Linked DNA regions of Homo sapiens: region 1 is linked to region 2. The links come from fine-mapping of genetic effects on plasma protein levels. A gene starts in region 2. The other region holds a variant in brackets. All regions are shown on one strand. Distances are from middle to middle.

The links. PIP is the posterior inclusion probability: the model's chance that the variant is causal. The UK Biobank Pharma Proteomics Project read protein levels with antibody pairs (Olink). The fine-mapping took linkage between variants from a reference panel, not from the people measured, so its PIPs are less certain.
Region 1: its variant is fine-mapped to the plasma level of the FSTL3 protein (UK Biobank, PIP 0.91).

Annotation. Positions count from the first base shown.
Region 1 is chr19:688,729-697,048 of GRCh38, forward strand. It overlaps PRSS57 (serine protease 57), which reads right to left and starts at 6,724. Exons shown (of 5, transcript NM_001308209.2): 1 at 6,624-6,724; 2 at 6,086-6,239; 3 at 3,130-3,274. The coding sequence starts at 6,702. It also overlaps the pseudogene RPS2P52. The variant G/A (reference allele first, on the strand shown) is at 4,062.
Region 2 is chr19:671,590-679,876 of GRCh38, forward strand. FSTL3 (follistatin like 3) reads left to right here and starts at 4,803. Exons shown (of 5, transcript NM_005860.3): 1 at 4,803-4,937; 2 at 6,203-6,388. The coding sequence starts at 4,835. RefSeq lists an enhancer at 7,157-7,659 and a silencer at 8,114-8,287.

The DNA of each region.
Region 1 (8,320 bases), 17 kb after region 2:
GCTGGGATGACTGGCACCCACCACCAGGCTCAGCTAATTTTTTTATTTTTAGTAGAGATGGGGTTTCACCACGTTGGCCAGTCTGGTTTCAAACTCCTGACCTCAAATGATCTACCCGCCTCGGCCTCCCAAAGTGCTGGGGTTACAGGTGTGAGCCACCACGCCCGGCCCCACACAGGGACTTTAAGCGTCTCCTCCACACAGGGCAGGGGCCCGAGAGGCACATTCATTCCATTTCAGCATAAACTTTGAGCGCCTGCTGTGTGCCATAAATGGCCATAAAGGTGATAAAAAATCCCTGCCCGTTAGGTTCAGAGGAAGCGGGAATGAGGAAGCGGGTGGTCCAGGGGTTAGCAGGTGACAAGCAGGTGACGACGGGGCCGGAAGGGTGGTCCAGGGGTTAGCAGGTGACGACGGTGCTAGAAGGGTGGTCCAGGGGTTAGCAGGTGACGACGGGGCTGGAAGGGTGGTCCACAGGTTAGCAGGTGACGACGGGGTGGTCCAGGGGTTAGCAGGAGATGACGGGGCCGGAAGGGTGGTCCAGGGGTTAGCAGGTGATGACGGGGCTGGAACAGGGTTGCAGGGAGGGGGTATGTGGTCCAGGGCGGCCTCCTGGGAAGGTAACATTTGAGCAAAGACTTGACAGGCGTGAGGGGAAAGGCTCGCGGTGTCTGGGGAACTGGTGCACTGGGTACAGCTGGTGCAGAGCTCGGAGCGGAGACTGTGCTGGGGATGGGATGGCCCATCCGGGAGGTCTGCTGGCCTCGAGTCAGAAAGGTGACAGGCATGGATTAGCAGGGCCTGTGGGCACCAGGAGGATTTGTCCTGCAGGAGGTGGGAGCCACTGGGGGGTCCAGGGCACAGGAGGAATGGGACCTGACGTCCAACTGTCTTTAAAACCTAAGTCAGGCCAGGCGCAGCAGCTCAGGTTTGTAATCCCAGCACTTTGCGGGGCTGAGGCAGGAGGATTGCCTGAGTCCAGGAGGTCAAGACCAGCCTGGGCAACATGGTGAAACCCCGTCTCTACTAAAAATATAAAAATTCGCCTGGCGCAGTGGTACACGCCCGTGATCCCGACACTTTGGGAGACCAAGGTGGGCGGATCACTTGAGGACCGGAGTTAAGACCAGCCTGGCCAACATGGTGAAATCCCATCTCTACTAAAAATACAAAAATTAGCCAGGTGTGGTGGTGGGTGCCTGTGATCCCAGCTACTCGGGAGGCCGAGGCAGGAGAATCGCTTGAACCCGGGAGATGGAGGTTGCAGTGAGCCCTGACTGTGCCACTTTACTCCAGCCCAGGTGCCAAAGTGAGACTCCGTCTCAAAAAATAGGCCAGGATTGGGAGGCAGAGGTGGGCGGATCACGAGGTCAAGAGATCGAGACCATCCTGGCAAACATGGTGAAACCCCATCTCTACTAAAAATACAAAAATTAGCCGGGCGTGGTGGCGGGCGCCTGTAATCCCAGCTACTCGGGGGGCTGAGGCAGGAGAATCGCTTGAACCTGGGAGGCAGAGGCTGCAGTGAGCCGAGATCGTGCTACTGCACTCCAGCCTGGGGACACAGGGAGATACTGTCTGAAAAAAAAAAAAATAGCCCAGGGCTGCTTCTCCTGGAAAACACTAAACGGCGGATGACGTCGGTGCAGTGGGGCGGCCCTGGGATGGGGAACGGCGCTGGCTTCCCCCGAGGCTTCGGCACTGGCTTCCGGGCTGGGGCCGCGGAGCTCACAGAGGCAAGACAGAGGATAAGGAGTAGACGCCTGTCACCAAGCTGGGCCGCCTGGTCAAGGACATAAAGATCATGTCCCTGGAGGAGATCTGTCTCTTCTCCCTGCCCATCAAGGAATCTGAGATCATTGACCTTTTCCTGAGGGCCTCTCTCCAGGACGAGGTTTTGGAGATTATGCCGGTGCAGAAGCAGATCCGCACCGGCCAGCGCACCAGGTTCGAGGCGTCTGTTCCCACCGGGGACTACAATGGCCACGTCGGTCTGGGTGTTGAGTGCTCCAAGGAGGTAGCCACTGCCATCATCGGGGCCGTCATCCTGGCCAAGCTCTCCGTTGTCCCCATGCACAGAGGCTACTGGGGGAACAAGATCGGCAAGCCCTACACCGTCCCTGGCAAGGTGACAGGCCGCTGCGGCTCTGCGCTGGTGTGCCTGATCCCCGTGTCCGGGGCGCTGGCATCGTCTGGGCGCCTGTGCTCAAGAAGCTGCTCATGATGGCTGGTATCGGTGACTGCTACACCTTAGCCAGGGGCTGCACTGCCACCCTGGGCCACTTTGCCAAGGCCGCCTCTGATATCCTCTCTAAGACCTACAGCTGCCTGACCCCTGACCTCTGTATTCCCCAAGTCTCTCTTTCAGGTATTCACTGGCCATCTTGTGAAGACTCACACCAGAGTCTCCGTGCAGACGCCCGGCTCCAGCTGTGGTTACAACATAGGGTTTTATACACGAAAAATAAAGTGAATTAAGCCTGGAAAAAAAAAATGGCCAGGCACGATGGCTCACGCCTGTAATCCCAACACTTTGGGAGGCTGAGGTGGGTGGATCACTGGGTCAGGAGTTCGAGACCAGCCTGGCCAACATAGTGAAACCCCATCTCTACTAAAAACACAAAAAACTAGCCAGGTCTGGTGGCGAGTGCCTGTAATCCCAGCTACTTGGGTGGCTGAGGCAGGAGAATCACTTGAGCCTGGGAGGCGGAGGTTACAGTGAGCCGAGATGGCGCCATTGCACTCCAGCCCCCGTGACAGTTCGAGACTCTGACTCAAAAAAAAAAAAAAAGAAAAGAAAAGAAAAGTAGGCCGGGCTCGGTGGCTCACGCTTGTAATCCCAGCCCTTTGGGAGGCCGAGGCAGGTGGATCATTTGAAGTCAGGAGCTTGAGACCAGCCTGGCCAACATGGTGAAACCCCGTCTCTACTAAAATACAAAAATTAGATGGGCTTGGTGGCGCGCACCTGTAATCCCATGTACTTGAGAGGCTGAGGCAGGAGAATCACTTGAACCCGGGAGGCTGAGGTTGCAGTGAGCCGAGATTGCGCCATTGCCCTCCAGCCCGAGCGACAGAGCGAGAGACTGTCTCAAAAACTAAACATACGTCAGATCCACCCCCGGGGCTCACCCGCAGCAGGCAGATGTCGTTGGCGTGGGTCATGGGGTGGTAGTCGGGGTGTGTGGTGAGAGCATCGATGCCAAACACCTGCTGGGTGGGCTCCGCAGTACTCAGGACGTGGGCGCCCAGCACCACCAGGCCAGTGCGGAGGTCTCTGCAGGGAGGAGGTGGTGGGTGAGACGGGGGTGAGGGCTGCCCGTCCTGGGCCTCGGTCCACTCATCTATGAAACGGAGGCCCAGGCCGGGCACGGTGGCTCACGCCTGTAATCCCAGCACTTTGGGAGGGTGAGGAGGGTGGATCACCTGAGGTCGGGAGTTCAAGACCAGCCTGATCAACATGGAGAAACCCCGTCTCTACTAAAAATACAAAATTAGCCAGGTGTGGTGGCACATGCCTGTCATCCCAGCTACTCGGGAGGCTGAGGCAGGAGAATTGCTTGAGCCTGGGAGGCGGAGGTTGCAGTGAGCTGAGATTGCACCATTGCACTCCAGCCTGAGCGACAGAACAAGACTCCGTCTCAAAAAAACAAAAAAAAAACAATTACTTTTGCATCAACTTAATATTCTTTTCCTTTTTTCTTTTTTTTTTTTTTTGAGACAGAGTCTCACTCTGTCCCCTAGGCTAGAGTGCAATCGAGGCTTACTGCAACCTCTGCCTCCTGGGTTCCAGTGATTCTCCTGCCTCAGCCCTCCAAGCAGCTAAGACTACAGGCGTGCGCCACCACTCCCAGCTAATTTTTGTATTTTCAGTAGAGACAGGGTTTCACCATGTTGGCCAGGCTGGTCTCGAACTCCTGACCTGAAGTGATCCACCTGCCTCGGCCTCCCAAAGTGCTGGGATTACAGGCGTGAGCCACGGTGCCCAGCCCCCAACTTAATATTATGATAATAAATTAATAATTATGTTTATTATTTTTCCTACCTCCAATATAGAATTAACT[G/A]CAATAGTTGTGGTATTAATTTGAATCATTATTATAAAAACATATTTAGAATGAAGATAATACTTATTATATTTATTATAAGTTCTATTTCAATTATAATATTAACTACAGTAATTTCAATATTCTCCTTTTTTTATTTCTTTAATTTTTTTTTTTGAGACGGAGTCTCGCTCTGTCACCCAGGCAAGATTGCAGTGGTGCAATCTTGGCTCTCTGCAAGCTCCACCTCCCGGGTTCACGCCATTCTCCTGCCTCAGCCTCCTGAATAGCTGGGACTACAGGCGCCCGCCACCATATCCGGCTAATTTTTTGTATTTTTTTTTAGTAGAGACAGGGTTTCACCGTGTTAGCCAGGACAGTCTCGATCTCCTGACCTCGTGATCCGCCTGCCTCGGCCTCCCAAAGTGCCGGGATTACAGGCGTGAGCCACCGCACCCGGCCTTTTTTTTTTTTTTTTTTTTGAGACAAGGTCTCACTCTGTCACCCAGGCCGCAGTGGTGTGATCACAGCTCACTGCAGCCTCGACCTCCCAGGCTCAAGCGATCCTCCCACAGCAGCCTTTCAAGTAGCTGGGACCACAGAAGCACAGCTCCGGTGCGGAGGACTCTGCGGGGAGGAGGGGGTGGGTGAGATGGGGGTGACGGCTGCCCGTCTGGGCCTCAGTCCACTCATCTATGAAATGGAGGCCCAGTAATCCATTTAATGCTCACGCCGGCCCCGTGATAATATTAGGTTGGTGCAAAAGTAATTGCACGAAAAAAATTAAATGGCAAAAACCACAATTAACTTTTTTTTTTCCGACAGAATCTCACTCTTTCCCCTAGGCTGGAGTGCAGTGGTGCCATCTCGGCTCACTGCCACCTCCACCTCCTGGGTTCAAGTGATTCTCCTACCTCAGCCTCCCGAGTAGCTGGGGATACGTACAGCCACTTGCTACCATGCCCAACTAATTTTCGTATTTTTTTTTTGAGACAGAGTCTCGCTCTGTCCCCCAGGCTGGAGTGCAGTGGCGCGATCTCGGCTCACTGAAAGCGCCGCCTCCCGGGTTCACGCCATTCTCCTGCCTCAGCCTCCTGGGTAGCTGGGACTACAGGCGCCTGCCACCACATCCGGCTAATTTTTTTGTATTTTTAGTAGAGATGGGGTTTCACTGTATTAGCCAGGATGGTCTCGATCTCCTGACCTCGTGATCCTCCTGCCTCGGCCTCCCAAAGTGCTGGGATTACAGGCATGAGCCACCGCACCCAGCCTAATTTTCGTATTTTTAGTAGAGACAGAGTTTCACCATGTTGGCCAGGCTGGTCTCATACTCCTGACCTCAAACAATCCACCGTGTCCCAACGTGAGGGGGACTGCAGGCTGGCGGGGGAGCTGGGGACACTGCAGCCCAGGACCAACCTATCCCGTGCCTGGTGGGGGCTCCTGCAGGAGGGGACCCACCCACCCTGGCCCCAATATACATTTTAATAGTTATTATAACAATATGTTTAAAACGAGGCAGGGCATGGCGGCTCACACCTGCAATCCCAGCACTTTGGGAGGCAGAGGCGGGTGGATCATTTGAAGTCAGGAGTTCGAGACCAGCCTGGCCAACATGGTGAAATCCAGTCTCTACTAAAAATGCAAAAATTAGCCAGGTGTGGTGGTGGGCGCCTGTGATCCCAGCTACTCGGGAAGCTGAGGCAGGAGAATCGCTTGAGCCCGGGAGGTGGAGGTTGCAGTGAGCCGAGATTGCACCGTTGCACTCCAGCCTGGGGAACCGAGACTGCCTCAAAAAAAAAAAAGAACATAGTGACAGTTACAGTAACAGAATATGTACTTGTTGCGCCTGTTGCTTCTTCTGTGCTTCTTTTGCCTCCCTGCCTTATCCTCCTGTTTTCCCTTTGTTGCCCTTTAAATCCAGCCCCTGCTGAGACTCCCCCTCCTGCAGGAGCCACGGCGCCCCCAGCTCCCCCACCAGCCTGGAGTCCCCCTCATGTCGGGATACGGTGTCCAGAAAGAAGGGGCCCGACAGGTGAGCTCACCTGTGGCTGAAGCAGTGGGCGGCCGAGACCACCCAGCGGGCTCGCAGCAGGAAGCCTCCGCAGTGATGTTGGCCCCCGAAGCGCACGGATGCCATGTAGGGCCTGGAGTGGGGGGTCACCTCGTGGCCCCCGATGATCTGGGCCCCCCAGGAGCCTGCTGGAGGGACGGCCTGAGTCAGGGACGAGGCGGGAGGAACGGATGACGGGGCTGGGGTCAGGGCAGGGGGAGAAGTAGCGGCCAAGACAGAGACAGGGGGTGAGATTAGAGACGGAGAGACCCAGAGAGCTGGAGACAGAGCCCAGACAAGCCCCCCAGATGCGCTGGGAGGGGCTCCCGAGCCCGGGAGATCCAGGGCTGGGCTGGGCAGAGACCCCGGCCGGATTTCCATCCATTTCCAGCAGAGGCAGCCACGGGGGCTCGGCAGATGGAGCAGGTGGAGCTCTCCCCAGGGTTCTCCCGGGACTGGGGGTTCCCGGGTGTGGCCCCCGTACGGGGACTTGGCGGGGGCCTGGGTGGGGATCCCGGGGGGCTCCTCACCGGGGGGCTTCACGGGCAGCATCAGGGCGGTGGCCACAGTCAGCAGAGGACGTCCCCAGCCCCTCAACCCGAGCCCCATGGCAGACGCAGGCTGGCGTCTCCCCGCAGAGGTCTTCGGGCCGTGGCTCCCACCCTCAGCCAACGGCCGGAAAGGGGGAGCCTGGCTGTGGCCTGTGGTCGGGAGGCCCCACCAGCAACGCCTGGAGCCCAGGCGGGCGTTTCTGAGAAATCGATGGTCTCAGGTGGTGGCTGGTAATAATCATGTTGATAATAATCATTGTCCCCTAGTCCGGAAACAGGGAGAGGAGGAGACAGCTCTGGGGCTGCAAGTGACCTCGGGAAGGCAATTGACCCTTCTGTGCCTCAGTTTACCCAGCCTCCACGTGGCCCAGCATGTGTGGGGAGCTTTCCGAGGAACCGAGGTCACAGCGGCACTCGAGACCCGCAGCTCGCCTCCGGCCCCCACCCCGCAAACCCCAGTCTTCCCATCTCCAAACCCAGGGCCGACCTCAGGGCTGTGGGGACAGCGAGGAAGGCCGGTCTCCTGGGAAGCTCTGATGATTTCTGCCTTTATTTTATTTTATTTTTATAGGTGGGGTTTTGCTATGTTGCCCAGGCTGGTCTCGAACTCCTGGGCTCCAGCGATCCTCCCTCCTCGGCCTTCCAAAGTGCTGAGATCACAGAAGACAGCCACTGCACCTGGCAGATTTCTGCCTTTATTCAGCAGTTATTGAGTGCCTAGTGTATACCAGACCTCATGCTAGGAGGTGAGGATGAGGCAGTGACCGCACCCCAGCCTGTAGCACTGACGTTCTGTGGGATCCGGAGTCCAGTGGGACATGGCTGTACATGGGGGTCTTCACCTTTTTTTTCTTTTCTTTTTTTTTTTGAGATGGAGTCTTGCTCTTGTTGCCCAGGCTAGAGTGGAATGGCACCATCTCGGCTCACCGCAACCTCTACCTCCCGGGTTCGAGTGATTCTCGTTCCTCAGCCTCCCGAGTAACTGGAACTACAGGCGCCCGCCACCACAGCCGGCTAATTTTGTTTCTGTATTTTTAGTAGAGACGGGGTTTCACCATATTAGCCAGGATGGTCTCGATCTCCTGACCTCATGATCCGCCCGCCTCGGCCTCCCAAAGTGCTGGGATTACAGGCATGAGCCACGGTGCCCGGCCTTTTTTTTTTTTTTTTTTTTTTTGAGAAGGAATCTTGCTCTTGTTGCCCAGGCTAGAGTGCAGTGGCGCGATCTTGGCTCACCGCAACCTCTGTCTCCTGAGTTCAAGGGATTCTCCTTCCTCAGCCTCCTGAGTAACTGGGATTACAGGTGCCCACCACCACGCCCCGCTAAATTTGTGTGTTTAGTAGAGACGGAGTTTCTCCATGTTGGTCAGGCTGGTCTCGAACTCCCGACCTCAGGTGATCCACCTGCCTCAGCCTCCCAAAGTGCTGGGATGACAGGCCTGAGCCACCGCGCCCAGCCCGGCAGGTCTTCACCTTTCAGTGGGAGCGTTCTTAGTGGCAAAGTTCAGGTCGTAAATTGCAGCTCACACAGCCGGGTGATGGCGTTCACGGCAGTGGCTAGCAGTGGGGTGCTCGTCAGCGCTTAATAATGAACAGGCTGGGGCCGGGTGCAGTGGCTCACGCCTATAATCCTAGCACTTTGGGAGGCCGAGGCAGGTGGATCACCTGAGGTCAGG
Region 2 (8,287 bases):
TGGGAGCAGAAAGGGGGAACCAGCCCCAGGCTGGCCCTCGTCGTGTGGTCCATGGGAGGCACAGGGGTCCTGGAAGCTTCTGAACCTGGTGCTGACCCTAGTCCTGACTCTGCAGGTCTGTGTGACTCCAAGAAAATCACTTCCCACCCTCCAACCTCATCCCTATAAATGGGGCGCCTGCCTCACAGCCTCCCAGCAAGCAGCAAAGGGGACTCACCATGGTCCCGTTCTGCACGAGCACCCATTGACTGGGTAATTAACAGGAATCTATGCACGCCATGGCCCTACTGTGCGCCTGGCACTGTCCACATCCCACCTGGAACCTCTAACACTGGGGTCTGTGCCCATGTTACAGATAAGAAAACAGGCATAGGCTGGGCACGGTGGTTCACGCCTGTAATCCCAGCAATTTGGGAGGCCAAGGCAGCTGGATCGCCAGAGGTCAGGAGTTCGAGACCAGCCTGGCCAACATGGTGAAACCCATCTCTACTAAAAATACAAAAAATTAGCTGGGTCTGCTGGTGCATGCCTGTAATTCCAGCTACTCAGGAGGCTGAGGCAAGAGAATTGCTTAAACCCGGGAGGCAGAGGTTGCAGTGAGCCGAGATTGCGCCACTGCACTCCAGCCTTGGCAACAAGAGCGAAACTCTGTCTCAAAAAAAAAAAAAAAGAAAGAAAAAGAAAACAGGCCTAGAAGGGTCCCAGGGCCTGGCACACAGTGGGCACCCACGGCTGCTATAACAAATTTGCACAAACTGCCTGGCTTAAAGCAACACACGGGCTGGGCGCAGTGTCTCATGCCTGTAATCCCAGCACTTTGTGAGGCCAAGATGGGCAGATCACCTGAGGTCAGGAGTTTGAGACCAGCCTGACCAACATGGCAAAATCCCGTCACTGCAAAAAAAAAAAAAAAAAGTAGCCGGGTGTGGTGGGAGGCGCCTGTAATCCCACTTAGTCTGGAGGCTGAGGTTGCAGTGAGCCGAGATCGCACCTCTGCACTCCAGCCTGGACAACAGAGTGAGGCCCTGTCTCAAAAAAATAAAAATGGCCAGGCATGGTGGCTCACACCTGTAACCCCAGCACTTTGGGAGGCCAAGGCGGGTGAATCACTGAGGTCAGGAGTTCAAGACCAGCCTGGCCAACATGGCGAAACCGCGTCTCTACTAAGAATACAAAAATTAGCCAGTTGTGGTGGCAGGTGCCTACAATCCCAGCTACTCGTGAGGCTGACGCAGAAGGATTGCTTGAACCCGGGGGCGGAGGTTGCAGTGAGCCGAGATCGCGCCATTGCACTCCAGCCTAAGCAACAGAACGAGACTACGTCTCAAAAAAAAAAAAAAAAAAGTTCCACACGGGTCTGGCTGGGAGAAGATCGAGGTGTTGGCAGAGCTGCATTCCTTCTGGCAGCTCCAGGAGAGAATCTGTTCCGCGCCTTTCCAGGCTCCTAGAGGCCGCCCACATTCCCTGGCTTGAGCCCCCTTCCTCCATCTCCAAATCCCGCAATGGCAGCCAAGTCCTTCTCTTATCCTGTCTCTAACCATAGAGGGCAGGCGTCTCCTTTTTTTTTTTTTTTTTTTTGAGACAGAGTCTCGCTCTGTCACCCAGGCTGCAGTGCAGTGGCACGATCTCGGGTCACTTCAACCTCTGCCTCCCAGGTTCAAGTGATTCTCCTGCCTCAGCCTCCCAAGTAGCTGGGATTACAGGTGCACAATACCAGGCCCACCTAATTTTTTTGTATTTTTAGTAGAGACGGGGTTTTACCATGTTGGCCAGGCTAGTCTCGAACTCCTGACTTCAAGTGATCCTCCTGCCTCGGCCTCCCAAAGTGCTGGGATTACAGGCGCACACCACCAGGCCCACCTAATTTTTTTGTATTTTTAGTAGAGACAGGGTTTTACCATGTTGGCCAGGCTAGTCTCGAACTCCTGACCTCAAGTGATCTGCCTGCCTCGGCCTCCTAATGTGTTGGAGGTTCACAGGTGTGAACCTAATGTGTTGGTGGTTCACAGGTGTGAACCACCGCGCCCGGCCAGGCATCTCCTCTTCTACGGACCCTTCCAGGACAGTGGGCCATCCGTATAACCCAGGATGAACCCCTGTGTGAAAGCCCTCAACTCAGTCCCATCTGCAGAGCCCCTTTGGCCAGGGAGGGTGGGACACCCACGGGTTCTAGGGATGAGGGCCCCATGGTCTCTGGGACCGCCGTTCTGCTGACCACCCCCCACTGCTCTCCCCCTCACTCACAGCACAAGCGTCTGTTTCCAGCGCACACCCCTGCCGCTCCGTCTGACGTTCGAGTCTCAACCTCAACGTCTCTTTCCTCTGGGAAGCCTTCCTCAGTCTCCCCCAGGCCCGGGTCAGGCCTGGGGCACCTTTGCCATCTGGGCATCCTCCGCCACAGAACAACACTGGATTGTCACTGTCTGTTTACCTGTCAGGATGTACCTGGAGGGAGACAGAAGCCTGGGGGGTGAGCAGAGGCCACGAGGAGCCACGGTGGGTGTCTGAGCCAGGGAGAAGTGTTATGGCAGCTGGGGTAGGAAGTGGGCCGCAGGGGCCAGGCTGCGGGCTGGAAGTCCTAGGATGAGCCTCGGGCCTGGATAGGGTGGGGAGAGGGGCAGAGCCGGGAGAGGGGAGGTCATCACTGGGGTCTCAGGAGGAGGCGGCGCTCTGGAAAGGGTCAGTGACCTGTTAGAGGTCACCCTGCACAGAGCCTCTGGGTTAGGGAAGACAGAGCCGGGAGCAGGAGGCCACTGGCAGCTGGCCTCGGTTTCCCCGGAGAGGGCCGGAACCCACGCCAGCCAGACAATGACCCTTTGATTCGCACAGCCCAGGCCGGAGTGGCCAAGCCACGGCGGGGTCAGGTCTTGGCCAAGGTCACACTGTCCAGCCCCCGCACATCCTCAGTGAGAACACAGGGTCCCATCCCTGCCCCACTCCCCAATCCCGGGAGAGTCCCGGGGGAATGCCAGAGGCCAAGGCCAGGTCGAGACGGCGGGGTGTCCCCCGTCAGTGAGAACACAGGGTCCTGTGCCTGCCCCACTCCCCAAGCCGGGGAGATTCCCGGGGGAAATGCCAGAGGCCAAGGCCAGGTCGAGACGGCGGGGTGTCCCCCCTCAGTGAGAACACAGGGTCCCGTCCCTGCCCTGCTCCCCAAGCCGGGGAGATTCCCGGGGGAAATGCCAGAGGCCAAGGCCAGGTCGAGACGGCGGGGTGTCCCCCCTCAGTGAGAATACAGGGTCCCGTCCCTGCCCTGCTCCCCAAGCCGGGGAGATTCCCGGGGGAAATGCCAGAGGCCAAGGCCAGGTCAAGACGGCGGGGTGTCCCCCCTCAGTGCCACTAAGGCAGAACTTGGCCCCTGGCCACTGGCTGCTGGGGGACACAGGCTGGGCAGCTAAGGTGGAGGAAAGGGTACAGGTGTGTCTTCTGTGGGCACAGATCTCACTCAGGCCAGAGAAGGGGCTGTGCCGTGGGGCTGCTGGACACGTCCGTTTCCACCTGCGGGGTGGGCAATGCCGGCACAGCGAGTGGCCAGACACAGGCATGCCCAGCAGACACCCAACCGCTCTCCACCACCTCAACCTTCTGTATTTTCCTGAAAGCATTTACCACTCCTTGAAGTTATAGATTAATTTGTCTCTGCATTTTGTTGTCCAAACCAGGAGCTCGGTGAGGGTGTGATGGGGTCTGCCTTGGTCACCGTGGCACCCCAGCACCCCGCAGGGTCCCTCTGGCCAAAAGAGATGTTCACTGATGCCCTAGAAGCAGGAACAGAGGGGCTCCCCTGCGCTCGCCAAGGGCGCCTGACAAATCTGGAGGCCCCCATGACAGAATCAGCTCCAGAGTAGGAAATGTGTCTGGCTGCACGAAAGCCCCCTCGGGCGCAGCGCCTCCAGGCCCACGCAGATGTCGCTGTCATACATTGTTGGAAACGCCTCTGCTGGAAACAGTGTTTGCTGAATCTTGGAGGGAGAGGAAAAAACCTAGTAAACATTCTTGTTGAGGTGATCTGGGGGAATGTCTGCAAAGGCTTGGAGGGCTGATGGGGCAGAGCTGCCCAGGGGCCCAGGACAAAGGCCAGGCGTGCGCGCGCACACACACACACACACACACACACACACGCAGTGGCCTCCCTGGGGGCCGTGGCTGGGCGAGGCCTGCTGTTGTCCGAGATGCTGGAAGGAGCTGTGTCTCTGGGTCTGTCCCGGCCGCACCCCGTTCTGTCCCACACCCAACCACTCCCCACCCACAGGCCGGCTCCAGCGGCCAGGTGGACGGGTGCGCGGCCCGCGCTGTGAGCAGGGAACCATATCCAGCTGAGGTTTTGGGTGTGTGGGGCGGGTCGGGAACAAGGAGGCCGGGTTGGGGGGCTCAGACCACACTTGGACCATGAAAGTGACCACATGCAAATCACAGAAACGGGATGCAGGGATCCACAGACGTGCTCCTCTTGGGTCCCCGTTACCTCACCGCCACCCCTGAAACTGAAGACCCCCAAACCCACTTTAATTCCTGGAGACGGCCCCTCGATCCACCCAAAAGGCTGCCACCACCTCGAACCCACACCCCTGTCCCGGTTCCGCCCTGGGTCCAGCCACATCTCCCCAAATGCATTCTCTGGCTCCGGAAGGGGACCCGGGCGCTCGCCCCCAACTGCCCCCCGCAGCGGCCGGGCCCGGCGCCTGCCCACCCCGCGCGGGACACGGCCTCGCCCCCGCCACTCCCGCGCCGCGCCCCGCCCCGCGCCCCGCCCCGCCCGCGGCCCGCGGGACCTTTATAGGGAGCGCCGGCCGCGCGCTGGGAAGTCGGTGCCGCTGCCGTCTCTGCGTTCGCCATGCGTCCCGGGGCGCCAGGGCCACTCTGGCCTCTGCCCTGGGGGGCCCTGGCTTGGGCCGTGGGCTTCGTGAGCTCCATGGGCTCGGGGAACCCCGCGCCCGGTGAGTGGGGCGGCCAGAGGGGCGGGCGGGGCGGGCCACCCACGTGGGGCTGCGCGGAATGCGGCCGGGGGGACGTCGGGGGGCGCGGCGGCGGCGGCGGGGGCGAGGGCGGTGTCCGGCGCAAGCTGGAGCCGGGAAGGTCTGAAGGAGGGTCACCAAGAGGTCAGCAGAGCAGAGGTTTCTAATCACAATGACCGCTGACATTTATTGAGCGCTTAGTGTCTACCTCTCCCCTCCCTGAACCTGTGCCATCCCGATAGTGCCGGAGCTCTCTTCATCTCCGTCTTCCAGATGGGGAAACTGAGGCTCAGGGTCACACAGCCTGTAGCAGGCAAAGCCAGGGTTCTAGCCGCGACCGTCCGGGTCGGTCCTGGTGCCGAGAGGTAGTGCTGGGTGTCGGGAGCCAGGCCCTCCAGCTGGGGCTGAGAGCTTTCCCGGGTCCTGGGTAGACGGGGCATGGAGTCTCACACCTGGGACTTGCCGGGAGGTGCCAGGCAGGAGACGGCCCCACTCCTGGCCTCAGTTTCCCCTCCTATGATGGGTGCCAAGGTGCTGCGTTCCACAAGCTGGTCCCTGGCAGTGTCTGTGAACCAGCAAGCGCTCTGGGATGGGGGCTGTGGCCGTTCCTGCCCCCAGGGACGGGGGAAGAAATGGGGGGCTCTCTGGCTCCCCACCCCCCATCCCTGCAGCCCCACCCCACCCCAGCCCTGCGCCAAAGGGAGAGCAGAGCCCCCTCCCCGAAGGCCACGTCCCTGGGGAGACAGTGAGCTCATGCAAGGGGAATGTTCCCAAGTTGGAGTGAGTAAGAGGCGGGCCAGGCGGTGGGGGGGCTGCCAGGCGCGGGGCTCCGCGTGCCCTCGCCCTCGGGTGCTGTCTAGACAGAGGGCAGAGGCGGGAGAAGCGGCTCCAGGGCCTGCTGACCCTGACATGCCCAGTGCCTGGTGTTTGGTGGTGTTTGAGGGGTTGGGCAGGGTGCCAGCCCCTGGCCTGGGGGCTTGGAGGGTACGGGAAGGGACCTCCTGGGGTGGGTGGGGGTTGGTGGTGAGGCTGTGGGGGGGGGCACGTGGAGCTCAGAGGGGAGGAGACATTTCCAGGGTTCTGGAGCCAGGGTGGGGACACCCATGTGGTTTTCTGCCCCTTCTTCCTGGGTGGGGGTAGATCATTCCGTGCGTAACTACTCAGCACCACCTGCATGCATCTGTGGGCGGGCCAGAAGCTGGGTGTCAGGAGTGGCCCAGGAGAGCACCCCGTTCCCCGGCCCGCAGGTGGTGTTTGCTGGCTCCAGCAGGGCCAGGAGGCCACCTGCAGCCTGGTGCTCCAGACTGATGTCACCCGGGCCGAGTGCTGTGCCTCCGGCAACATTGACACCGCCTGGTCCAACCTCACCCACCCGGGGAACAAGATCAACCTCCTCGGCTTCTTGGGCCTTGTCCACTGCCTTCCCTGCAAAGGTGAGACCTCAGGCCAGAAGCAGGGCAGACGTCTCAGCTCAGGACCAGCCACAAACAGTCATGGTGGTCGAGGGCCGAACGTCCAGGGACTGAGCCCGTCACAGGGGTATGTAGGAGGCTGCAGGGGGATCCCAGCCTCAGAGAGGGACTGGGGGGACTTCCCGGTTCCCAGGCTCCAGCCTCTTGCAGCTCAGGACTCAGGAAGAGACCACGTGGCTCCAGCCTTTGCTGGGGCTGAGCTCTCTGCCTGGGTGGCTCTTCCCACCTGGTCGATAAATGTCTGGCTTGCACCTAGCTCCTGGGAAGGTGGGTTTGCCATTCTGGCCTGTGACCCCAAATGTCCACACCAGGGACCTTCACTGCAGACTCCAGGGTCTGCGGTGGGGTTACAGCTGCATGTTTAACAAGCATTTGCCTCGGGACCCTGTTTTGAGAGGATGCCTCCCACATCAGACTAGGGGCTCTTGGTTGGCGAGTGGCACAGAACGAATGAATAAGATTCTCCGCACTGGAGGATGATGGTTTTTTTTTTTTTTTTTTTTTTTTTTCCTGAGATGGAGCCTCGCTCTGTCACCCAGGCTGGAGTGCAGTGGTGCGATTTTGGCTCACTGCAACTTCGGCCTCCGAGGTTCAGGTGATTCTCTTTCCTCGGCCTCCCCAGGGGCTGGGACTGCAGGCGCGCGCCACCACACCTGGCTAATTTTTATGTTTTTGGTAGAGACAGGGTTTCACCACATTGGCCAGGCTGGTCTCAAACTCCTGACCTCAAGTGATCTGCCAGCCTTGGCCTCCCAAAGTGCTGGGATTACAGGCGTGAGCCACCATGCCTGGCCTGTTGGGGCACATCTTGAAGGAGGTGGGCATTAGAGCTGGGGTGTTGGGGGATGTCTAGGAGTTTGCCAGATGGGGCCGGTATGGGAGAGTGGATCAGGAGAGAACATGGCTTGAGGTTAGGTCCTGGTGGGTGGGGTCAGGCAGAGGAGCCAAGGGGAGGCTGAAGCTGAGGGCTGCAGACCCGAAGGCCAGGCTGAGGAACTCTGCTGGCCTCTGAGATGTGATTAATCCCAGATCAGCCTGGCTGGGTGGTCCTGAACTCACTGCCACATACCCCTGCTCCCTCCAGACCCCCCTCTGGCTTCTGGGAGAAGGACAGTCTTCAAAAAGTGCCTGGCCTGGGCATGAGACGGCCCAGGACCCCCCACCCCCAACCTCATCTGGCCCTGGGGACGGAACTCAGGCCCCCTTCCGTTCTCGCTCGCATAAAAGCCACCCTGGCCGAGCATTTCCAGATGTGCCTGTGAGCCGCTGTGCCGGGGCCGCCCAGGTGCGGCCCACATGCCCTGCAAGGGCTGCGTGGCGGGCGCTGGCCATCCCCTAAGGAGTGCCGCACTGCCTTGGAAGTGGGGCTCCCTCGTCAGCCCCACTTTACACACAGAGAAACTGAGGCTGGCACATAAACTCAACAGCTGTGTTCAGAGGCCCTACCAGACCCCCAGATAACAGAAAGGGGGTTGGTCATCTGGGTCCTGGCTGCAGCTTTCAAACTGAGGTGCTTGGGCCCCTGCACTCATAGCTGCGACCCGGCCTCAGTTTCCCCATCTGTAAAATGATGACTTGGGAAGATGCGATAAGCCTAGGAGGCGATGAGCATTCACATTGAAAGCGGGGGCGGGGACCCCAGAGAGAGCTTCCCTAGCAGGACCTCAATATCCCTGTCTGAGCAGCGGGGCTGCGGGGCAGCTCCTGGTTCAGAGGCCTAGGGCTGTGGGGGGCCCCCTCCCCTGGAATCGCTCCCCAGGCCAGGAGGGCCGTCCAGCGCCCCGCCCTCCCCGACGCCTCCTGGGGGAAGGTCCTGGCAGCCCCAGACTCGCGCCTGGCAAGGGCGGAACACCCCAGGCT